Regions from separate parts of the Homo sapiens genome. Here region 2 is linked to region 1. The links come from fine-mapping of genetic effects on gene expression. A gene starts in region 1. The other region holds a variant in brackets. All regions are shown on one strand. Distances are from middle to middle.

Evidence for each region. PIP is the estimated chance that this variant, and not a neighbour inherited with it, causes the effect.
Region 2: its variant is fine-mapped to the expression of ADPRHL1 in prefrontal cortex (CommonMind, PIP 0.95).

What each region holds. Positions count from the first base shown.
Region 1 is chr13:113,444,875-113,456,991 of GRCh38, reverse strand. ADPRHL1 (ADP-ribosylhydrolase like 1) reads left to right here and starts at 3,504. Exons shown (of 8, transcript NM_001394807.1): 1 at 3,504-3,768. The coding sequence starts at 3,555. DCUN1D2 (defective in cullin neddylation 1 domain containing 2) reads left to right here. Exons shown (of 7, transcript NM_001014283.2): 7 at 1-1,173. RefSeq lists enhancers at 44-974, 4,971-5,472, 7,474-7,833, 10,161-11,102 and a silencer at 10,802-10,901.
Region 2 is chr13:113,393,035-113,409,909 of GRCh38, reverse strand. It overlaps ADPRHL1 (ADP-ribosylhydrolase like 1), which reads left to right. Exons shown (of 8, transcript NM_001394807.1): 8 at 1,690-10,299. The coding sequence ends at 6,532. Among named protein-coding and RNA genes, the nearest start is that of GRTP1, 37 kb to the right of the region's middle. RefSeq lists enhancers at 1,933-2,618, 3,736-4,530, 15,906-16,447 and silencers at 11,582-11,876, 15,519-15,628, 15,639-15,988. The variant A/G (reference allele first, on the strand shown) is at 9,475.

The sequences.
Region 1 (12,117 bases):
AGGAGATTCGCTTGAACTCAGGAGACGGAGGTTACAGTGAGTCGAGATCGCGCCACTGCACTCCAGCCTGGACGACAGAGTGAGATTCTGTCTCAAAATAAATACATACATACATACAATAAAACCGAATGAGCTGGTTCTTTCCATCCTCTTGTGGTACCCGTAGTGCCCAGCATCCAGACCTTTGTGCCCCTGTGCACATTTGGAAGCTAAAATGTACATCGTTGTCTGAAAAAACCCAACCCCAAAACCTTCATCTGATTGGTGAGCTGAAGTCTGTCCTTGCACCATGTTATCATCTGTTTCTCGTGTCCGCCTGGTTGAGGAGGACCCACGAGTGCTGCCGAGGTGTGGAGGGCTGGTATTGAGTTGTGGACATCACTGTTGACCCTACCTCACGTGCCGAGACTCTCATGTCACAGGCGTGCCTTGCTGCCCCCCTGCAGCACTGTGCAGGACGTGGACCAGCTGGAGCTGCTGCCCAGCACAGAGGAGAGTCGCCGCAGATGACCTAGCTGCGGTGTGAGAGAGCATGGCCCAGACAAGCAGCTGGGTTGGCTTCTGAGAACAGGACTTACCCTGGGCTTCAGGAACATCTGATGGCTGAGGTTAGTGTGCTTGGAGGCTGCAGGACGAACTGTCGATGTTTCTTAGCAGAGATGGTCACAGAGGGCAGCAGGGACAGGACTGGAAGGGACCTGCAGCCTGCAGACCCCGCCTGGCCCCCGCTGGCTTCTGGCTGGTCCAGTGATGGGCAAGTGACAGACCTTCCCCAGGCTCTGCTTCCAGAACTCTAATGGGAAACTGGGCCTGTCTACCTTTAGAAGTCTTCGATTCTCAGAGAGCATTTGTCTAATACAATAAAAACTGGCATTAATACAAACCTCAAAAACGTGAGCGTATCTTCCAGGCTTCATGGATTCTTGACATGTAATTGTTTTGTTCAGAAAAGTTTATAGAATTCACATAATTCTGTATAAACTATGGAGATCCACAGTACTTTTTTGTTTTTGAGATTTAAAGTTCTAAGGGATTGTCAATAGATATCAAAATATTAATCATTGGACAAAGGCTTTTCCAAAAATTGTGGGTTTTTTTCTTCTGTTGTATCCATTTGAGTCCTGCATGCTGTGAAATGCTGAGAACAGAAGCATTAAATTGGTTTTTCTCGGGCGTGGTTTCCTTTCGATTCTCCTCAGCTGCAGGGATGTCTGCCTATAGGTGTCAGCATCCACGTCATTGTCCCAGGATGAGAGAACAGCCCCCAGCTAGCAACCAGCGGGCAAGCCCCTGCCCCCGTGTGTGGCCCGCCAGCCCTGGCCAGGTAACCAGGTCCTCAGGTACCTTCTGTCATTGCGTTGCCTCTCAGCGGTGCACCGTGCACCTGATGGGGTGGCTCATGTGAGGAATGAGAGATCTCACAATAGGCAGGATTTACGGGAGTGTGTCGGGGCAGGAGGTCATGTGTGCCAGCACAAACTGCTGGAAACCGTCCCTTATCGGAGGCAAACGGCCAAGCACGGGGGTCTGAGGATCATGTGCTACCTGCCGATTCACGGTGCACCTGCCAGCGTTCCGGAATCAACAACGCCAGCTCCTCTCAGTGACATTGTACATGTCATTGTGTTATTTTCGCTTGAAGTTTATATCCATTTTAGACCTCAGGCTTCTTGGGGCCAAGAATAAACTTTCTTCTGATCCTTGTTGCTGTGTCCACAGTTTCAGGTACAAAGTAGGGGCTCTGCAAATATTTGTTGGATAAACGAGCTAACCTTATCCCGTCCTGTTTGCTGAGGGAGCCAGCTAGTGCTCTTGGCAAAGGTTTCCGCCGCCTGCGAACTGAAGCGCTCAGCGAGCGGGCTGTGTTAATCCCCTCAGCAGCACACGCTTCGGCCCCACAGTGCAGTTGTGCCTAAAACAGGTGAGAGTTTGAACGAAGGGCCGCCCCTCCTGTCTGTCTTGTTTGGATAGGGACCCTGCGTGCATGCTGTTTTTTGTTTTGGAGTTTTGTTTGTTTGTTTGTTTGTTTCTGAGACAGAGTTTTGCTCTTGTTGCCCAGGCTGGAGTGCAATGGCGTGATCTCGGCTCACTGCAACCTCTGCCTCCTAGGTTCAAGTGATCCTCCTATCTCAGCCTCCCAAGTAGCTGGGATTACAGGTGCCCACCACCATGCCCGGCTAATTTTTGTATTTTTAGTAGAGACGGGGTTTCATCATATTGGTCAGGCTGGCCTCAAAATCCTGAGCTCAGGGGATCCGCCCGCCTCGGCCTCCCAAAGTGCTGGGATTACAGCCATGAGCCACCGCGCCCGGCCTGCATGCTGGTTTTGAAGTTTGTTTCTGAATCTCAGGATCATGCTAGCTGGCATGACTGTGCTGATGGCTGCCTCCACCAGCAGACAGTGGAGGGTGAGGTGAACTCACTGCTTGAGATCCTCCGTTTTAACAAGTGCTGATATAACGCCAGGCGGTTAAATGCTTCCTACTGTCTCGCTGTACACTACGAGAGTTTTTATCAGACGCATTTCTTCAGTCCAGGTGTAACTCTTTGCTTCCCCTGGGTCTGATGGAAACCAGGCCCCGAGGAAGGAGACGGGAGAGACACAGCCCTGCTGGGCTCCCGGCCTCTGCGGAGAACTGTCCTGGGGTGGGGTCGGGAGATGGACTGTTTTCCTAATTTATTTCAAACCAGGAACCCTGGCTGTGTGCATTCTGCCTCACCCCCCGTCTCCATATTTTTTAATATTCTTTTCATGAGCTAGCAGGGATGATGTAAATACACTGAGCTGACCGAGGGCCGGATGGGAGGTTCTAGTGAAGCCTGCGGTTTGCTGACGACTTTCCCCCTCAGTGCAGTCCAATTATTTGGGAGCCGTTAAACACCGCATGCTGAGAAGACACCGTCATTGTTCACACAGGAGCTAGATAGACTTTGTTCCCTCTACACTGCATTTTTTAAAAGTTTTCTATCAAAAACACATTTCATAATCGAAAAGTTTTCTAAATGATAAAACCGCATGTCACAGATTAATCTCAACATTATGTTGAGTGAAGGAAGCCAGACACCGAAGGCCACACATTGTATTTGAAATGTCCAGGAAAGGCAGAACTGTAGAGACAGCAGATGGGTTGTTGCCCGAGGGGTGAGGGCACGCCCCGCAGCGGGCGGCAGTGACAGGCACGCCTGCACACATCTGCTCCCGCATCACCCCACGCCACACACGGGGAAGTGTGCGCACTCCTTCCAGGGACAGCGAGAGGAGCCCCTGCTCTGTCAACGCTCTGAATGTGCTGCGGCTGCCGGCAGAAGCTAGCAGGCTCCTCTGCTGAGGAGCTGGTGCCTGTCCAGACGCAGAAGAAAACTGACACCTCCCACGTGGGGGACAGAAAGGTCCTCTCATTGGTGCCACCTGCAGAGATAGACAAGGAGCGCCTGGCCATCAGAGGACGCTCCTGACAGTGACACAGTGACCACTATAAAAGTCAGGCGGGCTGAGGAGGAGACAAAGGCCAGGACGCTCCGCAGCTGTTGGGGAAGAGGAGCTGCCTCCTGGGATGGAGAAATTTAAGGCTGCGATGTTGCTGGGGAGCGTCGGCGATGCTCTTGGCTACAGAAATGTCTGCAAGGAGAACAGCACTGTAGGCATGAAGATCCAGGAGGAGCTGCAACGTTCCGGGGGCCTGGACCACCTCGTACTCTCGCCAGGAGAATGGCCCGTGAGTGACAACACCATCATGCACATCGCAACCGCCGAGGCCCTCACCACAGGTAGGCTGGGCCCACCGCGCTCCGGTGTGCGGGCTGGAGGGAACACTGGCTGCTCGAGTTCTCCCAGTAAGCCTCCGAGAGCTTTGAAGGCAGTGCGGTCCTTCAGCGGATGGTGTTACCTGATACCGCTGCTAAAAGTGGCAATTTAATCTGAGTGTCCCTCAAATTTGATATGCGGCAGATCACGTTTCTCCTGTGGTTTCTCTGAGGGTGACAGTATTACTTTACTTTGCAGTTATTAAGATTCAGTTTTTAAACGTGACTTTTCACTTGTATTTGTAAAGCGTTAACTAGGCCTAGCACCTTCTGTTTCTAATAGAGTTAAAGCCAGTGAAGCCTCTCTCGGCCGTGCTGGTGGGAGTAGGGTGAGGGCTCACTTCTCGCTGCAGAGATTAAGCCTTCTTGTTCTGAATTCATTACAAAGGGATGTAAAATAAGCCAGTTTGAAATGTGAACCCATTAATACTGTTTGGGGATTAGTTCTAAATTCCAATGAATTAAAGTTAGAATATCATCTCCCAAAATGGTTCAGCTTGGAGAGTTGCCCATACACAAATGTGTTCTAAGAAAATGACATAAACTTGATTGGACGAGATTGGAGACAAAGCTTCTTAAAATACCTTTAAGTAGCAAATTGATTTTAGGATCAAGCTTTTGCATGAATTTCAGGGAAATGGCAGGTGCACAGACATGCAGTCCAGCTTTCCTACGAGGCATTTGCTCTTCAAAACCCCGTGGGTGCTGTTTATCATGGCAGAATTAAAATCTGAGGGCTGCAGCTAAGTCAATGAAATCTCACTTATGCGTTCACTCCACCATTCTGTTCATCTGCCATGGACGTGCCCAGTTTAGTTCTGTGCTCACAGCAGAGGAATGCCATCGAGCCTGTGGCCGGTCCCTAAATAACGGGAGAGCTGAAGCGCCGGCGATAAGATAAGGCTCCCGGCTTGCTGGAGACGGGGAGGCGTCCGACTGTTCACAGCCTTGGCGTCCAGGAGCTCCTGCTTCTGGTTTTCCAGGCGGCCACTCGTGTGCCCTTAGGACCAGCAACCCCATGCTTGTGCCCCGCAGCCCAGAACAGGTGCACCCCACACACAGACACCTGTGGGACACAGCTCCGGCTTGTTTTCACCGTAGACGGCTGGAGCTCACTCTTGAGTTTGGCTTCCTCTGGGCGTCTGATGCCGTGTGTGCGCTCATACCAGCTCTGCATGTCCCATTTCTGGTAGCACTTGGTGGGCGTTTTGTAAATGGCAGCGTCCATGGCTGTGGGTCTGGTCCTGCCAGGCCCGCAGGGAGGGCAGCGGCACAGGACACTCCAAAAGTGCACCGACGGAGATCGGCCCAACAGGACACGAAATTCACACAGTTAAAAGGGTTACGGACGTTTAGGGCACTGTTTTTTGTTTGTTTTTTGAGACGGAGTCTTTCTCCATCGCCCAGGCTGGAGTGCAGTGGCGTGATCTCAGCTCACTGCAACCTCCACCTCCCAGGTTCAAGTGATTCTCCTGCCTCAGCCTCCTGAGTAGCTGGGGCTACAGGTGCCCACCACCACGCCCGGCTGATTTTTGTATTTTTAGTAGAGACGGGGTTTCACCACGTTGTCCAGGCTGGTCTCGAACTCCTGACCTCAAGTGATCCACCCACCTCAGCTTCCCAAAGTGCTGGGATGACAGGCGTGAGCCACCATGGGGCGCTATTCTTAAGGAGGAAGTAAGTTTGCTCTAAGCTCTCAGGGTCCTCAGCTGTGGACTGGAAGGGAGGGTTCACTGTGCTGCTGCAGCGTCTAGTTTGTGGGTCATGAGAAAATACGCATCCAAGATCACCCCTGGAATTGCTTACTGTGGGCGGCAAGCCACCCAGGCACTGAGGCAAGAGACAGAGGACACGAGCTGTTCCAGTATAATAAAACAAGAATAGTTATACCAGATATAGATCTTAGATATGATTATATATGAATATCATTAATCATTAGTTTGTAGCAATTACTTTTTATTCCAATATTATGATAATCCTCGCTCTATAATCATAGCCTAGGAAAAACCAGGCCATACAGAGATAGGAGCTGAGGGGACATAGTGAGGTGTGACCAGAAGACAAGAGTGCGAGCCTTCTGTTATGCCCGGACAGGGCCACCAGATGGCTCCTTGGTCTAGCTGTGACGCCAGCGTCTGGGAAGACGCCCGTTACCAGGCGGATCGTGGTCCAGCAGTAGCAAAAGGTGGCAAGGAACAACACCTGCTACTTAGCAGACCAGGAAGGGGGGGGGGGTCTCCCTTTCCCCAGGGGAGTTTAGAGAAGACTGCTCTTCCACCTCTTGTGGAGGGCCTGACATGAGTCAGGCTCGCCCGCAGTTATCCGGAGGCCTAACCGTCTCCCTGTGATGCTGTGCTTCAGTGGTCACACTCCTAGTCTGCCTTCATGTTCCATCCTGTACACCTGGCTCTGCCTTCTAGATAGCAGTAGTAAATTAGTGAAAAATTAGTACTATCAGTACTAATAGTCCCTGATATGCAGAAATAATGGCATAAGCTGTCTTTCTCTCTGTCTCCTCTCCCTCTCTGCCTCGGCTGCCAGGCAGGGAAGGGCCCCCTGTCCAGTGGACACGTGACCCACATGACCTTACCTACCATTGGAGGTGACTCGCATTCTTTACCCTGCCCCTTCTGCCTTGTATCCAATAAATAACAGTGCAGCCAGACATTCGGGGCCACTACCGGTCTCCGTGCATTGGTAGTAGTGGTCCCCCGGGCCCAGCTGCCTTTTCTCTTATCTCTTGTCTTGTGTCTTTATTTCTACACTCTCTCGTCACTGCACACAGGGAGAGACCCACCGACCCTGTGGGGCTGGTCCCTACAGCTTACCCCTCTAGAAACCAAAGCAAGCAGATTTTTTTCAACTCACTAAAAATCAAAGTCGAAATTTCACTTAAGTTTATCTTTGTTCTTTAAATAACAAATTGTAGCCTATGGAAGGGGGTCTTTAAGCTGTGTTAACAATGGTGAGGGCTGGGCACAGTGGCTCACGTCTGCAATCCCAGCATTGTGGGAGGCCACGGTGGGCAGATTGCCTGAGCCCAGGAGTTCTAGATCAGCCTAGGAAACATAGCAAGACTCCATCTCTACAAAACGACAATGGTGAGTGCTGACTCCACAGCACTTCTGTACCAGGCATTGTTCCAGCTGCTTCACGCATGTTATCCTCCACACATGCTCCTCACATCACCGTGGAGGCTGATTTTATCACAATCTTACAGGAGAAAAAATTGACATACAGAGAGGTTCAGGCGCTTGCCCAGTGCCACACAGCCCAGCGAGTGGCAGAGCTTGGACGGGAACCAGAGAATCTGGCCCCTGTGCTCGTAAGCATCCTCCCTGACTGCTGAGATCACGGTGGCCTGCAGGTATCCTAACAATTGCAGTGTGCAGGGGCTCTTCAGCATGCTTTCCAAAGACAGGCAGACTTTTACAAATGGAACTACGTTTGGCAGCTTTAAGTAAGCTGCACTGAAAAGTCCTTCACCCCACGAGCCACGGGGCTGTGTGGTCTGGCAAACCCTGGCTCTGCTGCTAGAGTGAGCACAGGTCTGAGGGTCGGGGCAGCCTGTGTGGCTCCCTCCTTCCGGGTGAGCCTCTCTGAACCGGGCTGCCTCCTTCCGGGTGTGTCTCTCTGAACGGGGCTCCCTCCTTCCGGGTGAGCCTCTGAACAGGGCTGTCTCCTTCTGGGTGAGCCTCTCTGAACCGGGCTGCCTCCTTCCGGGTGTGTCTCTCTGAACGGGGCTCACTCCTTCCAGGTGTGTCTCTCTGAACAGGGCTGCCTCCTTCCGGGTGAGCCTCTCTGAACAGGGTCCCTCCTTCCGGGTGTGTCTCTCTGAACAGGGCTCCCTCCTTCCGGGTGAGCCTCTCTGACCGGGGCTCACTCCTTCCGGGTGTGTCTCTCTGAACAGGGTCCCTCCTTCCCGGTGAGCCTCTCTGACTGGGGCTGCCTCCTTCCGGGTGAGCCTCTCTGACTGGGGCTGCCTCCTTCCGGGTGAGCCTCTCTGACTGGGGCTGCCTCCTTCCGGGTGAGCCTCTCTGAACAGGGCACGAGAGCAGACTCTGAACCAGGAAGTAGCCGTGTCTAGCGCTCTACAAGACACATAGGAGAGGTGGCATCCATGGCCCTGAAACGACAAGCCCATGTTGCCAGCGCATTATCACCAAGTCACTTGGCAAGCGTTTAGCAGGTGTGTGTGTGTGCCAGGCCTGGGGAGGGGCGGCCTCGCACAGAGAGCTCGGCCATTGCTCGGGTATGCAGCTGGCCATTCCCAGCTCCCTACCCCCACTCCCTGGGAAAACTGGGGAAGTGGCTTCCCTCCCAGGGCCTTCCTCCCTCACAAGGTCACAGAGGATTAAACGGAGCAACCAGCAAAGTGTGAGGAAGCACTTAGGCCAGTGTGGGAAGTTGGTGCAGGCCCGTGTGGCCGAAGGCACATCTGACATGTCTCTGCCCTGAGGCTCACTCAGCCAACTTCAGGGCCCAGCAGGATGGCGGGAGGTGTCACCTGGCCACAGCCTCCAGGGCACAGGGCCAGCACCTTCTCAGCCTCTCCCGGGGCCCTGATAACTGGGAGTGGCACTTCAGCTCATGGCAGAAAACGTTTGGAAACAGTTGACATTTTGCTACAAGATCACTGGATGTTAGTATTTTGCCTTTTCTTTATTGAGACATGGGTTGGGAGACTCAGGCACCATTTTTTTTTTTTTTTTTTTTTTTTTTGGGACATAGTCTCACTCTTTTGCCCGGGCTGGAGTACAGTGGCGCGATCTCGGCTCACTGCAACCTCCACCTCCTGAGTTCAAGCGATTCTCCTGCCTCAGCCTCCTGAGAGGCTGGGCTAACTTTGTATTTTTAGTAGAGACGGGGGTTTCACTATGTTGCCCAGGCTGGTCTCGAACTCCTGACCTTATGATCTGCCCATCCCAGCCTCCCAAAGTGCTGGGATTACAGGTGTGAGCCACTGCACCCGGCCCCTCAGGCAGCTTTAGAAACTGATTTGTCTTTCAGGAGACCAGACAGGGAAGACAGGAGACAGGAGTGGAGTGTCCCAAAGGAAAGAGACCCGGGGAGAAGCCCAAGGGTAGCAGCTTTGAAAATCTGTTTCTCGCTTAAATTCTAACCTGAAAAGACAATGCTGTTTGTGCCATTTTGTTTTATGGCTTCTGTTTGCTTTGAAAAGGCTAAATTTCAGTTGAATACAGACATTTCATGTCTAATTCCAGAATAAAATGAATCCTTTTAGGGGACTCAGGAAGGGCTAGGCTTGTTAACCCAGGACTGAGTTGAGAAAGGCTGTTTGTGGATCCACTGTGCCGGTGACTGTGAGGGGCACACACTGGGTTTAGACACAGCCTGGACAAAGCCACGCAGCTGTACCCCCATCCAGGGGTTTCGGGTGCAGGCGAAGGTGACCTTAATTCCTGCAGGAATGCAGCCCTCACACCTCTCCTATGAGACTGCAGGACTCGTGTCTCCCAAACCACAGTCTTGCCACATTCTCTCTCCTCCCTGACTCAGAACTGGGGTGATGAACATGGCGTCATGTAAAACAATACTGTGCATGCACACAACACCATGTGTGCAGACAACATGTGTGTAGACACCATACACATACAATGTGCATGTAGACACCATGCACACAAAACACCGTGAGTGTAGACACCATGCACACACAACACCATGAGTGTAGACACCATGCACACACAACACCGTGCATGTAGACACCATACACACACACCACCATGAGTGTAGACACCATGCACACACAACACCGTGCATGTAGACGCCATGCACACACAACACCTTGCATGTAGACGCCATACACACACAACACCGTGAGTGTAGACGCCATGCACACACAACACCGTGCGTGTAGACGCCATGCACACACAACACCGTGCGTGTAGACGCCATGCACACACAACACCGTGCGTGTAGACGCCATGCACACACAACACCGTGCGTGTAGACGCCATGCACACACAACACCGTGCGTGTAGACGCCATGCACACACAACACCGTGAGTGTAGACGCCATGCACATACAACTTGCATGTAGACACCATGCACACACAACACCGTGACTGTAGACACCATGCACACACACCATGCATGTAGACACCATGCACACACAACACCGTGCATGTAGACACCATACACACACAACACCGTGCATGTAGACACCATGCACACACAACACCGTGCATGTAGACACCATGCACACACAACACCGTGAGTGTAGACACCATGCACATACAACTTGCATGTAGACACCATGCACACACAACACCGTGACTGTAGACACCATGCACACACACCGTGCATGTAGACACCATGCACACACAACACCGTGCATGTAGACAACACTGTGCGTGTAGACAATACTGTGCATATAGACAAAGCCATGCCTGTATGACAACACGGTGCATGTAAACACCCTGTGTTTACACAGCGCAATGCTATGCATTTATGACAATATCATACATGCAGGACAGACAATACCATGTGTGTAGACAACACCATGCACATACAACACTGCGCATGTAGACACCAGGTGTGTTGGCAACACTGTGCATGTGGATAACACTGTGCACATAAGACAACACTGTGCATGTAGACAACACCGTGAGAGTAGACAATGCTGTGAGTATAGACAACGCCGTGCCCATATGACAACACCGTGCATGTAGACAACACTGTGCACAGGCCAGCCGGCCACGCCTCCCAGGACTGCCCCTCTCTTCAGAGGCCTCTGCTGGGCCGGGTCAGGGAACTGGTGGTAGGAGGACACAACATACAGTCCTTGTCCTGAGCACTTCTCCGGGGGTTTGCAGCCACGGGAGCCCTCTCTCTCTGGGGGGTTCACAGCCATGGGGCCCTGAGTGCTCTCTCTGGGAGGTTCACAGCCACTGGGCCCTGTGCACTCTCTCTGGGGGGTTTGCAGCTGCAGGGCCCTGAGCGCTCTCTAGGGGGTTCACAGCCAAGGGGCCCTGCTTGTTTTCTCTGGAGGGTTTGCAGCTGCGGGCCCTGCGTGCTCTCTGGGGGGGAGGGGGGAGGGGGGGCCTGCAGCTGTGGGGCCCTGCGTACTCTCTCTGTGGTAGGAGGTGAGGAGGTTTGCAGCCGCCGGGCCCTGCACGCTCTCTCTGTGGGGTTTGCAGCCGCTGGGCCCCAAGCACTCTCTCTGGGGGGTGTGCAGCCTCAGGATCCTGTGCACTCTCTCCAGGGGTTTGCAGCCATGGTCCCTACACGTGCGTGCTCTCTCCAGGGGTTTGCAGCCATGGTCCCTACACGCGCGTGCTCTCTCCAGGGGTTTGCAGCCATGGGGGCCCTGTATGCTCTCGCCAGGGGTTTGCAGCTACAGAGGTTTCATGTCCTGGAGGAGGAGTGACTTTGCCAAGTGCCCTTCCTAATCTCACCAACCCATCCATGCTAGGACATCTGGCTCTGATGCGGCTGAAAAAGGCCCCAGCCACCAGCAGGAAGGTCTTTTGCTTCCAAGTGCCATTTCTGCCCCATGGAGGGTGGGCCAAGCCTCCATCTTCGCCTCCCTCTCCCCATTCATTCCCACCCCTCCCCTCCCCAAAGGTGGGGAATTCATCACCAAGGAAAAGGGAGCAGTGGCGTCTCCCGGGGCTGACCCGCAAGCCCAGAGTGCAGTTTTAGTACAAAATGAAAACAAGTTGCTGGGTGTTAAAGTGGCCGTTGGGAGGGGCGCCCTCGCCGGCCCCACCTGGTGGGCATCCGCCTGCCACAGCCTGTCCTGGCATGGCCAGGCACCAGGGCTCTGATTTTAGAGGCTGTGTGGACTCCATCCACACACTGCGGGTTACTTAATCACAGAAATGCTCGGGCTTTGCAGGCAAACACCTTTGTCAGCTCTGGCTTTGGCCAAGACACATAACCTCACTGAGCCTTATCAGGGAATATGGCAAATAAGAACTAGCCCTTGCTGTGGGAGGACGTCTGGGCCTCCCGCGTGCTGGGCATAGGGCTGGTGTCTGCTGTGTCCAGCTCCTTCACCCTCGTGCCCCAGGGTCTTTCAGGGCCTCGAGCCCACCCTTGTTTCCGGAACACTGCTTGTGGGGCTGGGGATGCTGCTTGGTGGCAGCTGTCCCTGCAGCACCTGGGTTTCTGGCAAGAGAAGAAGGAGCTGGAGCTGGGCACACTGGCCTCCACCATCGGCGTCACAAGCCCATAGAGTAGGCCAGTTTCGGTTCTGTTTGTGGCCACATAGATGGAACCATTAGAAAAGGGGCACGGTGGGGCTGGGTGCAGTGGCTCACGCCTGTAATCCCAGCACTTTGGGAGGCT
Region 2 (16,875 bases), 49 kb after region 1:
CTTTTTTTTTTTTTTTTTTTTGAGACGGAGTCTCGCTCTGTCGCTCAGGCTGGAGTGCAGTGGTGCGATCTCGGCTCACTGCAAGCTCTGCCTCCTGGGTTCACGCCATTCGCCTGCCTCAGCCTCCCAAGTAGCTGGGACTACAGGCGCCCGCCACCACGCCCGGCTGATTTTTTTTTATATCTTTAGTAGAGACGGGGTTTCACCGTGTTATCCAGGATGGTCTCGATCTCCTGACCTCGTGATCTGCCAGCCTCGGCCTCCCAAATCACGCTGAGATTACAGGCGTGAGCCACGGCGCCCGGCCTCAGCTTCTTAAAAACAATCGGGTTAGAGTGAGCTTTTCACTTGGCACCACGTCACCAGCCGCATCCGGCCACCGACTCTTCTCCCACAAATGTGGACGTGCCATTGTGCGGCCGCCCTGGAGTTGGACATCGAGGATGCTCTAGATTTTTCAACATTATAAACGGCACCATGAAGGCGACTTTTCCTGTAATACTCGAGTCTTTGTTCCTCATCCCTGATGATCTCCTTAGAATGAATGACTAACAGGTGTGACAGCTAAGATTCTGGGTGCGTCTACCCAAAATTATCATCTGGGGAGGTCAGAGACGGCTCCACCCCCTGCCACAGATGGGGAGACCTTCCAGCTTTGCTCCTGTGGTCACGGCTGCTCAGGAGCAGAACTTACCCCGGACCCAGGCTCAGAAAACACCATCAAATCACAAAGACCCTGTCTCTCCAGCCAAGACCCATTTGGTCCCGTCTCTTTGAAAGCTGGGCTGGTGGGAAGGAATCCCTGGTGAACCTGCAGAAAAACATCTCACTGGGAAAGGGCGGCAGCCCCCAGCCTCAGTGGCTCCTCTAAGCCATTTTGAAAGGGGTTCCGGAGACCCAGCCAAGTGATCCCAGCCCTCCTCCCTCCTCTCTGCAGCCCCCTCTTTCCTCCCTCTCTGCAACCTCCCCTCCTCTCTGCAACCCGCTCCTCCCCTCCTTTCAGTAGCCCCATCTTTCCCTCCTCTCTGCAGCCCCCTCCTCCCTTCCTCTCTGCAGCCCCCTCCTCCCCTGCTCCTGGTGGGCACTGCCCACTGCAGTGCTGGTTCCTGCCCAGGAGCTTGTGAGGAAACTCTTTCTGCCTTCTCCGCCCACCCCAAGCCTGAGCGGTTTGCTGAATCTTCAGTCTCTGCTGTAGGGACCCAGGTCCCTGGGATCATGGCAGAATTTAAATATGCTGTTAATTTTATCTTTCATACTTAAAGGTAGAGACATACACAGTCCACACAGAGAATAGACACTTCTTTATATGTGCTTTTTTACCTACTGTACAAGCAAAGTATGTTTGTTAAAATTTTCTTTTAATATGTTGCATATGCAAAGTGGTTTTCCAAACGCTTTCACTAAACTGTTCAATGTCAACTCCTCAATGCCCTTAGGAGGAGCGTGTGTCAGAAGTTCCTGCCATTTAACAGGAAACAGTGACCCAGAAAAGCTTTGGCATCCCTGCCAACCCCGAATTAACAGCAGAGACAGCCCAGAAGCCACAGCTCCTGGCTCCTAATCTCTTTTTCTCCCTACCAGACTTTTGGGGCCCCTGAAAAGGTGGGATTGCCCCATGATAAATGTTCTATAGAGTCATCTTGGAGAAAAATGATGATGAAGTAGGTGATGATTCCTTTTTCTCTGCAGCCGGAAGAGCAGCAAGACCTGCAGTGACGTCATGTCTGTGGACGCCCAAACCCTGAAGAAGAAGATGGGCAAGCTGGCCTGTGACCCGGCCGCCCACTCCATCCTCAGCAGCCTGCTGCTCTACGTCACGGGCCGCGCAGACCGGCCCCCGGGGACAGAGGCCGGGGGGAGCAGGCCCAGCCACCAGCCCCAGACCCAGGAGGCCACCCAGCGGCCCACGCGCTTCCAGCTCCTGCAGGCCAAGTTCCTGGGCACTGGCCGGGAGCGCTACCTCAAGAGGACCAGGGAGGTGGGCCGGCTGATCTCCAAGGACAAGCAGGGGCCGGGTGGGGGCCTCGTGGGTGCCACCATCAACAAGCTCCTGGAGAAGACCAAGGAGCCGGCCCCAAAGCCCTGCCTCAGCGAGAAGCCCCGCTGGGGCCACCCGGCCGGGAAGAGCACCGTGAAAAACATCCTGAAGATATTCTTGGCCGCCGAGGAGAAGGAGGCGAAGGAGAAAGAAGCACGCGAGAAGCCCCCTGTGGAGCGGCCCAAAGCCGCCAGGGGCCTCTTGCCGAAGATCATGGGCAAGAGCTCGGTGCTGTCCAAGCTGCGGGAGAAGTTCGAGCAGAACAGCTGCCTGTGCTCCGAGGCCAGTGCGCTGAGGCTGCACACGCAGGAGCGGAAGAAGAGGAACCTGCAGAGGAAGAGGATGCACCGGCCGGAGGTGCGCGTGCTGCACACGGCCACCATGGCCAGCACCTGCGTCAAGATGCCCCCTGCCCGCTTTCTGGCCTGCACGGCTGAGCCCCTGCCGGCCCTCAGCATCGCCACCGTCGTCTGTGGCCCCAGGAGCTGGCTGTCCCACTGCACCAAAATCAGCCACTCGGAGGCAAGGCGTCCACCCAGAGGAGAAGCCAGCGTGCCCCCTAGTGCCAGGGAGACGGGGCCCAGTGGGAACAAAGCAGTGGGAAAGGGGCCCCTGGAGGAGGAGCCCCAAAGACAGCCAAGGCCCTCGAAGCCCGTGACACCCCAGGTGATGGCTCAGAGGGACGGCCACGCTGTCCCCTCGCTGGCCTTCTCTTGTGCTCCCTGCACAGGTGGAGTCCTTCCTGGCCTTGTGCCTGCATCATCCCCACTGGGACCGGCCAGCCCTTGGGGCACCGGATCAGCCGGAGGTGATGGGACTGCAGACCCCACCGCAGAGAGCACCGCAGGAGGCGTCCAGGAGGTGAGGGGAGCCAGGCTCACGTGGCCTCCTGGGCCCCCAGGCGAGTGTGCAGGGGAGGGCCCTGAAATCACCATGACTGTTTGCAGTTCAGAGGATGAAAGGGAAGGAGCAGGCTTCCCAGACCCAGGGAGAGACCCCCTCTTTGCCACCCAGAAGTATTTCCCAGAACAGAAGGTGCCGGAGCACATCCCACCCCTGAACGCTCCATCGGTCCAGGCTGCTCGGAGAACACAGCCTGCCACGGAGCCTCCACGGATAACTGTCCAAATTCCAGTTGTCCATGAAATGCCAGCCCCTCCCACCAGGCTGCAAAATATGTCAAGTGGTGAAAACAAACCTTGTATTTGTGGAGGAGAGAATGTGGTTGAAAATGCCCACACAGAATTTCCCACCGTGACTGAGAACAGAAGGGGTCACCGAGCCCCAGTGGAACTGAGCAAGCTTTCAGGGATGCAGGCGGGACTCAGCGCCTCTTCGCCGCAGGGGCCACGGGCAGCTCCGCGTCTGGCAGCAGCAAGAGGGGCTGTGGGCGCCGACCACAGTGTCCCAGAGACACTTCTGACACAGAGACTCCAGACAGATCCTGCTGGCGGGAAGGAAAACAAAGGCAGCTTTGAGAATTCACACGGTCCCAGGAATCCTGACGATATTTCAGGAGAGAGGACCTCTGAGCTCAGAGATGTGAAGCATCCGTTGCCGGAATCTAATGAAATATCAATGCAGAAGAAGGGCTCCGCAACAAATGATCCTGCAGCCTCACAAAACCTTCTGAGGGGAAACACCAGCCATGCCTCCAGCAGCCAGCAAGTGCCGTCCCCGACTGGGAGAAACCCAACAGGAGCCCCCACGTCACTGGCGGCATCATCCAAGGGGCGTACGGGGCCTGAGGGTGTCACCCCGATGGGCATGACAGTGCCCGGTGCGCTGGAGGAATGCAGAAGGCCGCTGCTAATAGAGTCTTCTCAGCCCCTGAAGGCTGCCGAGGAAATCACCAGCCATGATGTTCGCGAGAACCCACTGTCCTCATTAAATGAACCACCCAAACCAGGTATGAAAGCCTGTGGGGCGATGGCAGCTGCAGGGAGCGTTGCGAGCCGCGCCACGCCTGCACCAGCGCCAGGCAGCACCCAGAGCCCTGGAGACCGCACAGCGGGAGAGCCAGAGACGCTGGGCCAGTGGGGAAGCAGAGCCTTGTCCGAAAGCCACCCCAGAGGAGAGGCTCTCCCTCGAGACCCTCACAGCCACGGCCTCCTGGCCCCTGGGGGATCCTTGGAGCCCAAGAGTGGAGCAGCAGGGAGGAGCCTCCTGAGAGGCGTGGCCCTCGTCCAGCACCCAGAGGACATTGCGACCCTCGCCCGCCACCCGGAGGATGCTGCGGCCCTCGCCCGGCACCCAGAGGCGGCCCGATTATACATTTCAAACACATCAGCAGCCAGCAGACATACAGCAGCTGTAGGAGGCAGAAAGGATGTGGCTGTGGAAGGAAACCTTTTGGGTTTCAGCACAGAGTCTGGAATTCCTGCTTCTGATCATCCTAGGCCACAGGCAAGGAGCGTGGCAGAGTCCCCCAGCTATGGCCCTGGCCTCCCGCCGTCGCCTCCTGAGAACCCACAGGCAAAGGGCAGGGAGGGCGTCAGGTTTCCCCGTGGGGCGGAGCCTGACCATCTGCTTCCCGCAGTGCCTCCCGCGGAGGTGGACATGGGGTGGGTAGGTGGCACCCACCAGCGGGGCCCTCCCCATCTACAGGCACACCTGCCCCCTACTGCTGGTGACACACAGGCAAAGCTCCGGGCCAGTGTCCCCGAGCCTAGGACGCAGGCAGGTGAATCCCAGGAGCGTCCCCTGACACAGGCGGACCTGGGGAGGCAACAGAGTCACCAGGCACAGGAGGAGACCCCCCAGCCCGGGGATGCGGGGAAGAGGGTGGCGCCGTCGGGCTCGAAGGTTGTGCTGAACCCAGCAAAAGAGCCTCAGACATGGTGGGCACAGGATCTGGCCGGGGACAAAGGGATGGCCATTGGGGTTGGGGGCGCCTGCCAGCGCAGTGACCAAGGTCAGCAGCATCTGCAGGGACCCTGGGAGGAGCGGGGGCGGAGCACGGCGTGGGGAGAGGGCACCAGGGCTGCCAGGAACCCAGCTGTGCCTCCAGGGGAGCCCGAGGGGCCGGGAAGCCCGGCAGCCCAAGGACAGGCCCAGAAACAGGTTCAGGAATGGGACCGGGGACAGGTTCAGGGACACGCTCAAGAACAGGCCCAGTGGCAGACCCAGATAGAGGCCCAGGGGCAGGCACAGGAACAGGCTCAGGGTGGGACCCAGGGACACAGTCAGGGACAGGCCCAGAAACAGTTTCAGAATTGGGCCCAGGGACAGGCTCAGGGACACGCTCAAGAACAGGCCCAGTGGCAGACCCAGATAGAGGCCCAGGGGCAGGCACAGGAACCAGCTCAGGGTGGGGCCCAGGGACAGGTTCAGGGACAGGCCCAGAAATGGGCTCAGGGGCAGATTCAGGGACAGGCCCAGAAACAGGTTCAAGGAGAGGTTCAGAAATGGGCCCAGGAAGAGGCTCAGGGACAGGCCCAGTGGCAGACCCAGATAAAGGCCCAGAAATGGGCTCAGGAACAGACCCAGAAAGGGGCTCAGGAACGGGTTCAGGGTCAGGCCCAGAAAGGGGCTCAGGAACGGGCCCAGGAACAGGCTCAGGAGCAGACCCAGATAGAGGCTCAGGGTCAGGCCCAGAAGGGGGCTCAGGAACGGGCTCGGGAACAGGCCCAGAAAGGGGCTCAGGAACGGGCTCGGGAACAGGCCCAGAAAGGGGCTCAGGAACGGGCTCGGGAACAGGCCCAGAAAGGGGCTCAGGAGCGGGCTCGGGAACAGGCCCAGAAAGGGGCTCAGGAACGGGCTCGGGAACAGGCCCAGAAAGGGGCTCAGGAACGGGCTCGGGAACAGGCCCAGAAAGGGGCTCAGGAACGGGCTCAGGAACAGGGTCGGGAGCAGACCCACATAGAGGCTCAGGGTCAGGCCCAGAAAGGGGCTCAGGAATGGGCTCGGGATCGGGCTCGGGATCAGGGCTGGGAGCAGACCCAGATAGAGACTCAGAGGCAGACCCAGAAAGGGGCTCAGGAACGGGCTTGGGAACAGGGTCGGGAACAGGCCTTGACAAGTGGGATGGCGCCTCGGGCCTGGGAGCAGCCCATTAGTGGCATAGCTGAGGGAGTGGATGCTGCTGGCAGGAGTGGGGGGTCCAGAAGCCCAGCCCCCAGGGATGGTGGACAGTCAGGGGGCAGTGGCCTGGGGGAGCCCAGCGCCGGGTACCCACCCCCAGGAAGCCGCCCCCTCAGGGGCAAGAGCATTGCCACCTCTCCCCTGGGGCTGGGAAAGAGCCCAACTGAGCCCAAGCCTGAGGCTGGGGGCTGCGGGACTCCCCAGGCCCCGGCCCAGGAGGGGTCCCCAGACCACCCTGGGGCTGAGAGGGCCCTGCAGGACAGGATGGAGGCATCGGAGCCCGAGCGTCGCGGGAGGTCCAGGCACCTGGCCAAGTACAAAGCCCAGAGCTTCCGTGACCAGAGGGCCTTCGATTTGTCCTTCAGACCAATGAGCGTCAGGGCCAGCGACACGTCTGAGCTCCCAAAGTGAGGCCCCGAGTACACACCGTGGCTCGCCCAGCACTGTGACATCCGCCCATTGAGGGACTTCAGGCATTTTCCTGCCTCCAAATGCGTCTTGGAGCATCCCCTACAGAGACGCCTGTTTCCATAATTTTCTTTCCCTTCTTCACAAGCTGACCTTGGGAGGATTGAGCTACATGTGGGTCGGGTTCCTGTCACCCCACAGAGCCACGAGGCCATGGGGGTGGGAGGTGCGGGCCTGTGGCCTCACCAGGCCCTCGGGATTCTTTGTGTCTTCACTCGGGGGCGCCGGCTCACCCCTCTCTCACACAGCCTGCAGCGTGGAGCTCACACCTCCCGCAGTGGCACGGTGTGTGCGTCCCCTTCGATCTGCAGGATGCTGGCACTTTGGGACACCTCCCCAGCTCTCACAGGGCCACCTCCCACTGCTCCCTGCCCACACCCCACCATGCCCTGCTCTGACGTGGCCGCATGGCACCCACCATCCATGGGCCCAAAGTGATGCACACCGCCCCACCCCCATGACTCGAAAGAAAGGGCAGAGCTTCCTCCAGCCTCAGACGCCCAGGTGGGTGCCGGGTGCTGTGTGGCTGCTGGGCCATGTGGTGGTCACCAGAGGGTGTGGGGACGCTGGGATCCCAGGCCGAAACCAGCTCATCCGGAGGAAGAGGCCTCAGGAAATGCCCACGTTAAGTTCTGAGAAAGGGACAGTGCAGAGCCGTGGGAAGCCAGGATCCCAGGGAGGCTTCGTCTGGAAACTGGGTGCTGGGAGAACGAACGGGAGCCTGCCCGCCCTTCCCTGCAGTCCCTGTGGGTGGTGCCACTGGTGCCGGTGACCTGAGAGCCTCGCTGTCTGTCCTCCGTCCTCCCGAACAGCATAGAAGTGTTTCCTGCCCTGGCCCGAGACGGCCCACGACTCCGGCCCTGTTCAGGTACTGAGGTAATGCATGTTCAGGCTGGAATATTTGAATGCTGTCTAGAGGCACAAGAAGGAAATCAAAGCCACCTGTGGTCACATTGCCTCGAGATGGTTTTTGTTGCTACTCTGGACTATTTTTTAGGCTCTTCCTCCATGCACCTATTTTAAAGCACATTCTTCCCCATGATGGAGCCATGCACCTCCGTGTCGCGATCCATCGTCCCAGGCCACTCGGTGGCCTCTGAAACCCGGACCCGTGAGGCCACACGGCTGCCTGAGTGGCCCCGGAGCAGCTGGATTTTCAGCGTGAACCGATGCAGCCTGTCGCCCTACAGCCCCGCACCCTTGTTTTTGGTGGTGCCCTCCCTGTGGAAAGTTAATTCCTGCTTTTTGAAGGTGTCTTGGCATCTTCTGCCTTTGCTACTGAGCGGTTTCCTGAAACAGCCCTAAGCGTTCGCAAAGGCGCTTTGGTGCCTGCTGCGAGCACCTGTTTTCTGACTCGGATGTTCCTTTAGAGGAAGGTGTTTTCCAGTGTCGGCCCTGAGAGGGCGTTCAGCAGGCGCGTCCTACCCACGCGGGGCTGAGGTCTCTCCTTCCAGGGAAGGTCCATCCCGGCAGACGCCAGTGGCTTTGGCTCTGCAGCGCCAAGGAGGCGGCGTGGCGTCATGCTCCGGGGAGCGCACAGGTTTCCTTCCAGTCGAACAATTAACTTCAGATCCAGCAGGTTTGACCCACCCTCACCTGCTGGGACATGCGAGTGCTGGTGTCTGGAAGGAGGGCCGGGCTGTGCTGAGCTCTGGGGGGCCGGTCCCCACAGCTCCCCCGACAGGGCCCCCGGGGCCTCCTCTATAAATCAGGGGTCCGTGCTCCCAGCCCGCTTCGAGGGGTTTCTGCTTGGCGTGTGGGTTCTAAGTGCGAGCTGCTGTGTGTGGAGGCTCCTGAGCACCGGGTGCCCCTCGCGCGTGTGGGTCCCGGGGCAGCCCAGCTGCACACAGGATGGTCCGGGGGTGCGGGTGGGGGCAGAGCTGAGCATGGCGTGTACTTGGCCACAGAAGTCTTGCTGTGGTGCCGCTGGACCCCTGCTAGGAGGACAGGGTCCCCTCTCTCACGAAGCACACGGACCTCCAGAGTCCCTGCCCCTGCAGTCCTGGGAGCCTGCAGTTGGGGCTGGAGTTGGCCTCTCGGAGCCACCCAAACGGAGAGGCCCATGAGAGGGGAGCTCAGGGGTCCAGCAGAGGCTGACAGAGTGGCCTCTTTGTCCTGTTGGCGGCCCCTGCTCATGCCTGGGGCGTCCTCCCTGGAGCTGGGGGAGCTCAGGGACCCCCAGGTCTGTGTGGCTGCCCCTGCCACTCCAGGCACAGCGGCACGGCCCTCACTCTTTACCTATTTGGAATTGGAGGCAATGAGTGGCAAGAACATGATGACAGACACGGGAGGTAAAAATATGTTCACTGGCTGTTCCCTTTATAAATAAGAAGTGGTGGGACTTGCGCTGCTATTTTTAAATAGACCAGAGAGTACACTGGAGAAGGCATTGAGTGGTTTTATTTTAAGTGGTGGAAAAAATGATGAGAATCTCCTCCAGATGACAGCTCCGGAAGTGTCGTGCCTGAACCCCTCTCACAGTCTGGCGGGCGCAGAGTCTGTGAGCGGCCAGGAGGCCACCTGCTCGACTGGCCCGTCCTCTCCATGTGCCAGATGCAGCCCAGCATGACACTGCCCTCAGCTCAAAAACAGCACAGCTACTCTGTGTGCAGGAAAAAACTGCCAGTGACTTCACCAGGATTTGAGAACGGTCCGTACGTTCACACTAAGCTGAGACAGCGCAGGTTAGAAGATAGCGCGGGGAAGTATTCACACTTCAGATACGACCATCACGGCCACATGGCTAAGGCCCACACCCTCCCGGGGTGAAATAACTACAGCAGAAGAATGGGGCGCTAACCACCTCCACGGGCATTTTAAATAAAACCCAAAGTTGTTTTGTTTTTTTAAAAAAAAAAAAAAAGAAAGAAAGAAAGTGGCCGGGC[A/G]CGGTGGCTCATGCCTGTAATCCCAGCACTTTGGGAGGCCGAGGCAGACAGATCACGAGGTCAGGAGATCAAGACCATCCTGGCTAACACAGTGAAACCCTGTCTCTACTAAAAATACAAAAATTAGCCGGGCGTGGTGGTGGGTGCCTGTAGTCCCAGCTACTCGGGAGCCTGAGACAGGAGAATGGCGTGAACCCGGGAGGTGGAGCTTGCAGTGAGCCGAGATTGCGCCACTGCACTCCAGCCTGGGTGACAGAGCGAGACTCCGTCAAAAAAAAAAAAAAAAAGAAGAAAAGAAAAGAAAAGAAAACAGGATATTTATTTTAGCTTCTTAGTTAACATCATTAATTTTGTGTAGTTGAGCGACTCGTTGACTGCCTCCTCCCTGCAGTTTTTTACGGTGCCTCCGGCTGTCGACAGGCCCACTGTGAGCCGCAGGTCTGTGGGTGCAAGTGACAACAGCCGGGCGGGAGGCGGTGCACTCAGGCGGCAGGAAGGTCCCGAGACGGCGACGAGAATGTGGTCATGTTCAGGACACTCGCTCAGGGAGGGTCGTTGTCTGGGATTTTACACGCTCAGCACCACCTCCTTATTCTGTTCTCAGGGTATCTCTGCTGTTGGAGTTACGGTCTTTCGGTTGTGTATTAGGCTACAGCTATTTATTAAATTTGTTCTTGTTCATATTCTTCTTTGTATATAAACAACCCTAAAATGGGTTAGTCAGAAAAAATTACTAAATGTCATTTGTTGTATTCTCTCTGTATTTTTACTAACATCATTCAGCTGGAAATAATTTCAAAAAGAAATAAAATACCTTTCCCATTACAAATCTCTTCCTTGCATTGTTGAAGCAGCCGCATAAATGAAGTAGGACTCAGGCCTGGGGCGAGGGGCAGAGCCCCCATCGGGTGAATGTGGCCAGCCTGGAGCAGTGATCCTGGGCAGGAGGGAGGGTCTGGGGCAAGGCCCCAAGTGGGAGGAGAACTCCTTAGGATGTGCTTAGAGAGACAAGGCCATGCACTCCCCAGACCCTCTCTTGGTCCAGTCAAGACTGTGCCGGCCTCGGAGCAAGACCCAGGGAGCTGGACTTCGGCCACTGCACCTGGGCCGCGGGGGGCCAAAGGGCTGGGGTGTCCTCTGGGACACGGAGGGAGACTGGACAGAAGGGAGGGAAGGAGTATGGGTGCAACGGGCCCAGCAGGCCTGTGAGACACCCTCTGCCCTCCACTACTCTGTATGCAGGAGAACTTTGTAAGTGACTTTTCATGAGGATTTAACAACGGGTGGTTTAAGCTCACGCCAGACCTAGCTGGGAATGCCTGCATTCCAAACCCCTGCTGTGCCCGTGGGTGGCGCGGGTTCTTGGCATCTTGTGAGGAGGAAAGCTTGTTCCACTGAAACGAGCTGATGCCTCGTGTCTGAGAGCACTGGCCCGGCAGCCGAGGCTTTGGGATGGTGCAGGCACCTCTTGTCCTGAAAGAAAACCCCTGTCAATTAAGCTATGACACAGGCTTTCATTAGAACTTTTATTTTATTTTATTTCATTTATTTATTTTGAGACGGAGTCTCGCTCTGCCACCCAGGCTGGAGTGCAGTGGCGTGATCTCGGCTCACTGCAAGCTCTGCCTCCCGGGTTCACGCCACTGTCCTGCCTCAGCCTCCTCAGTAGCTGGGACTACAGGCGCCCGCCAAGACGCCCGGCTAATTTTTTGTATTTTTAGTAGAGACAGGGTTTCACCACGTTATCCAGGATGGTCTCGATCTCCTGACCTCGTGATCCGCCTGCCTCGGCCTCCCAAAGTGCTGGGATTACAGGCGTGAGCCTCTGCGACCGGCTAGAACTTTTAAAAGCACTTATTGAGGGCGTCTGTGAGACTGGTGTACATAGAAGTCTGATCAAACCCCATTCTTGGGATATTGTTATAAGCTTGGGGTAGACAAATGTTTCCCTGAACAGAAGAAAAAGCCCCAACCACAAAAGGAAGTGCCGGGACATTTGTCTGTTTGAGCGTCGGTGCATTTGCTGAATCTTTATGGCCGCCATGGATTTTTGACAGGAATGGATGTCACGTAGCCCCCAAAGCCCAGGACTGAGCAGCTGAGCAGTGCACGCCGTTTCTCTGACAGCGAGAGGACTGGCCTGGCTCAGGTCCACAACCCCAGGCGGTGTCTGGGAAGCCACTCGAAGGCACAGGAGCCTACTAGAAGCCCCATCTGTGCACACCCCAAACTCGTGAAAGTGCCGAGGCATCTTCTCCTAGAAGAACAAAGGAGGCCAAGCGGGGAGTGAAGGCAACAGTGTCTACAGTGGTCCGTTTCCAAGACAAAGTGCCTTGAATCGGCTTAAGTCAGCAAACTACAGAAGAAACAGGAGGTCCGAGGCCCCTGCCTGGATCGCCAGTGCCTGCTTGCCGGCCTCCCCTTCTCCCTCCCTTCCCCCCGGCCCTTAGGTGCTCTCACCTGAACTAAAGAAGTTTAGTCTAAGATAACAGTTTACTAGCCTGCAAAATAGCTGGCTTTGTCTGTTCTTATCAGCCTGCCCAGCTACTTAGGTCATAAGTCAAATACTTGAAGAGCCCCTGGGCTGACTGGGATTGCAATGCATTGTGGGCTGCAACAAAATGCAACAGGACACCCCTAAAAAAAACACCTACAGCCCCTGCCCAACAACCAATAGGTGACGTCCCAGAAGACTGTGACCCCAGAGTACTCAGCCTGTGAGGAACCCGGGGAGACACCTGTGCACTAGGGGATAAATTATTTGTTGAAACTGTGCTGGCTGTGGCTGCCCATCAGACACCCGATCTTGCAAGACCATCATCAACAGTCTCACTTTCAGCCAGGTGCAGTGGCTCATGCCTGTAATCCCAGCACTTTGGGAGGCTGAGGCAGGCAGATCACAAGGTCAGGAGTTCAAGACCAGCCTGACCAACATGGTGAAACCCCGTCTCTACTAAAAATAAAAAAATTAACTGAGTGTGGTGGTGTGCACCTGTAATCCCAGCTACTCAGGAGGCTGAGGCAGGAGAACTGCTTGGACCCGGGAAGCAGAGGTTGCAGTGAGCCGAGATTACGCCACTGCACTCCAGCCGGGTGACAGAGCGAGACTCTGTCTCAAAAAAAAAAAAGAAAGAAAGAAAGTCTCCCTTTCACTCTCCTCCGGGTCTCCGAGTCCTTCTTCTGGGTTTGGACAGATGAGTTTGTTTCTCACCACTTGAGACCAGGAGTTCCAGACCAGCCTGGGCAACATAGTGAGACCCCGTCTCTATTTAAAAATGAAAGTAAAATAAAAAATAAAAGAACAAAAGACCACAGGTCATGTTGTATTGAAGAGCGGAGAAAGAGCTGTTGAATTCTCTGGATGGCTGTTTCCTTACGGCCTGTACCACTGGAAGTCATGTCTTAATCCCCAACTGGAAGAAGGCGCTCAACCCACCAGCAAATCTGCACGTAGGGAAGAATTTTCCAAATCTTGAAGAAATAAGAACCCAAAAAAAGCACCAAATAAGTTACAGATTTCCATTGCTCAATCAATAATGATGATGATAAAATAATCAAGAAGCCGGGTGCGGTGGCAGCACCTGTGGTCCCAGCTACTCAGGAGGCTGAGGTGGGGGGATCACGTAAGCCTCGGAGTTTGAGGCCAGCCTAGAAACATAGCAAGATCTTGTATCTTAAAAAAAAATGAATAAAATGTTAAAAAATAAAACAAAATAAGAAACTGATGAAATTCTTGGACTTTGATAACGGCAGGAAGCCGCACACATACAGGAAGAACAAAGTCCAGAAAGAGCTGACGGTGGACGCCCAAGAGAAGAGGCGGCTTCTGCGAGCTCTGTGTCGTTAGGAAGGGAACTCGGCTTCATTTCAAATTCCAAAGGGGCTCAAACATATGAATAAGACCCCAGTCTTTCATGGGAGCCCCAAAAGTGGGGCTATTTTTCTACGTTTTGACAGCTCCCCACAACATGAATCCTGTCTTCTCTCTGCACGGCAGTCCCACATCCCACATCCCCAGCCTTCCTTGCTGCTGGGACGCATGCAGCTCTGCCAGGGAGACGCAACCTCCCCAGGCCGGCAGGGCACAGCAGGTTCTGGGCCCACGGTGAGGACGAGCCGGTGATATGGAGTCTCCTGGGTGTGCAGAGAAAGATGTTTCCAGGGAAGCTGAGAGAAGGAAGCTCATTAGCCAGTGCAGAGCTGGGCTTGGAGGCCTTTCCTCTAGTCCTGCAAGGAGCTGGGAGCTGTCACACTGCTCACCATGTCCCTTTCTGCTCAAATTCCCCAGGATGGATTCTGCCCCCTGCACTCAAGAAAACACAGGGGGCCGGGCGCGGTGGCTCACGCCTGTTATCCCAGCACTTTGGGAGGCCAAGAAAGGCGGATCACGAGGTCAGGAGATAGAGACCATCCTGGCTAACACGGTGAAACCCCGTCTCTACTAAAAATACAAAAAAATTAGCCGGGCGTGGTGGTGGGTGCCTGTGGTTCCGGCTACTCGGGAGGCTGAGGCAGGAGAATGGCGTGAACCTGGTAGGCGGAGCTTGCAGTGAGCCGAGATTGTGCCACTGCACTCCAGCCTGGACGACAGAGCAAGACTCCGTCTCAAAAAAAAAAAAAAAAAAAAAAAAAGAACACACAGGGGCGCCCCCATCAAAACCCACAGCAGACGTGCTGTATCGGACCACATACTGGAGCACACGGGGCTGTCCCCATCAACATCCACGGTGGACGTGCCGTATCGGACCACATACTGCGTGCGTGGTGGTCAAAGACATGAAGTTGAACTCTCATGGGTCTATCAAGTTGAGAACCAAAACCCCCAATTTTTAAAAGGAATCGGTAACACTCACTACCTCTGAGGATGTACGGAGACAGTCATTCCTGATGGGACCAAACATTGGCCCTTCCTTTTTATAAAGCAATTTGGCAATAATGTCAAGAACCTTTAGAAGGGGTGGCTCCTCAGCCCAGCAATTCCAGCTTTGAGAAACTGTATTTAGGAAAAGCAATCTGTCCAGCGTGGTACTACTCAAGATACAGCCATAAGTGACACAAATGTCCACCAATTAAGAGATTAGTTGGCCAGGCGCGGTGGCTCACGCCTGTAATCCCAGCACTTTGGGAGGCCGAGGCGGGCGGATCACGAAGTCAGGAGTTCAAGACCAGCCTGGCCAACACAGTGAAACCCCGTGTCTACTAAAAATACAAAAAATTAGCTGGGCGTGGTGGCGGGCACCTGTAATCCCAGCTACTAGGGAGGCTGAGGCAGGAGAATCGCTTGAACCCAGGAGGCGGAGGTTGCGGTGAGACGAGATCACACCATTGCACTCCAGCCTGGGCAACATTGCAAGACTCCCTCTCAAAAAAAAAAAAGAGATTAGTTAAATAAAGTGTGGTGTCTTATTCAGTGAAATAGCAGTCATTTAAAATTAGCTGAGGAAGAACTTTGTGAAATGGAAAATATTGTACCATTTAATGTTTAAAATCCAATATAAGGCCGGGCGCAGTGGCTCATGCCTGTAATCCCAGCACTTTGGGAGGCCAAGGAGGGTGGATCACCTGAGGTCAGGAGTTCGAGATCAGCCCGGCCAACATGGGGAAACCCCATCTCTACTAAAAATACAGAAATTAGCTGGACATGGTGGCGGCGGACGCCTGTAATCCCAGCTACTCAGGAGGCTGAGGCAGGAGAATCGCTTGAACCCAGGAGGCAGAGGTTACAGTGAGCCGAGATGGCGCCATTGCACTCCAGCCTGGGCAACAAGAGTGAAGCTACACCTCAAAAAGAAAAAAAAAATCCAGTATAAAATAGTAGATTCAAATATGTAAATACGTGTGAAGGGGGCAAAGAAAGAGAAACGCGAAAAAAGGTGAGCAGTGGTTATCCACGAACACCCGATGTGTAGGTGTGTTTTCCCGTCGTTATCTGTCACTGCTTTCTGCGTTAATTTAAATGCACTTGCATCACTTTCAGGATCAGAAAATAAAGGCCTATGTGTGACCCTGGGGCGCTGGCGGGGGCTGGACGGAGGCCCAATGCCCCTGTTGCCCATTGTCTCCAGGCTTCTCCAGGACTCGGCTTCCCGCCTCTCCTTTGGGGACCGCACGAGTCACTGGGGGAGGCTCCGCGGGCAGCAGGTCTCTGGGAGGGGTTGTCGCCCCCTCGGTGCGCAGGGGAGCGACGGGTCCCTCCTGCACCTGCAGGGACAGGCCTCGGGCTGCACCGTCCCGCGCCCGCCTACCCCGCGCCCGCCTCGCCGGACGCCTCCTGCCTGAGTCCGCCAGGGGGCGCTGCCGGCCTCCCGGGCGGCGGCTGCTGCAAGAGGAAGCCCCGGCCCGCGAGCTGCTGCCACATCCGGACGCCGCCGGGAGCCGCCGGGAGCCGCCGGGGTGGGCGGGAGTCGGGGCGGCGCGCAGGTTCCCGGCCCCCTAAGGGACGGTTGCCTTCCCCAGAGCCGGGGACACAGGCGTACGTGCGGGGACCTCGGCGCTGGCCTCCGGGCTTCTGGAGCCCCTCCCTGGTGCGGAGCGGGGACGGTGACCTCCTCGTGGATTCTGGGAGGGGCAGCCTTGGCATCAGGACCTGGAAGCCGGAGAGGCTGCAGGGCTTCCAGCCATGGCCTTGCCACCGGAGGTCACGTAGTGTTTCCACATTTCCTTAGTGTGTACATGTGTGGGTCCCTGTGTTGTGGAGGGCTGTGTCTGCTTGGTGTGTGTGCACACGCGTGTGTGCATGGGTGGGTCCCTGTGTTGTGTAGGGGCCGTGTCTGCTTGGTGTGTGTGCACACGCGTGTGTGCATGGGTGGGTCCCTGTGTTGTGGAGGGCTGTGTCTGGGCAGGCTGTGTACACACCCATGTGCATGTGTGATGCGCACTGGGGCACTTGTCTGGGTAGTAGAGGTGGAGGCCTGTGTGGCCATATGTGCAACTGTGTGTCCGGGTGCGTGTACCACAGTCTTCCCTAAAATAGTAATACTGGGACCTACGTCATGGGGCTGTTGTGACCGCGTGTGGCACTCCATGTGGGGTGGCACAGCCAGGCGCTGATCCGGCCACTTTGCCAGTCGGACTGACTGCGTGTCCTCTCCTTAGGGGTGAGAAGCTTCCTGGCATCGGGCCTGGGCTCCTGAGCCCCTGAGCCAACCGACTGATGGTCCCTGGGAGACAGCCCCCGCCCTGCTCCTGCCCCCCACACCTGAAAGGCTCATTGTGTGGGTTTGCTGTGCTCCACAGGGATGTAAACCGCCCCTCCTTTTCCCTGTTCTGTCTGTGAGAAGGTGCCAGGGATACTTTTTTTTTTTTTTGAGACCAAGCTTCACTCTTATTGCCCAGGCTGGAGCGCAATGGCGCGATCTCGGCTCACTGCAACCTCCACCTCCCAGGTTCAAGCGATTCTCC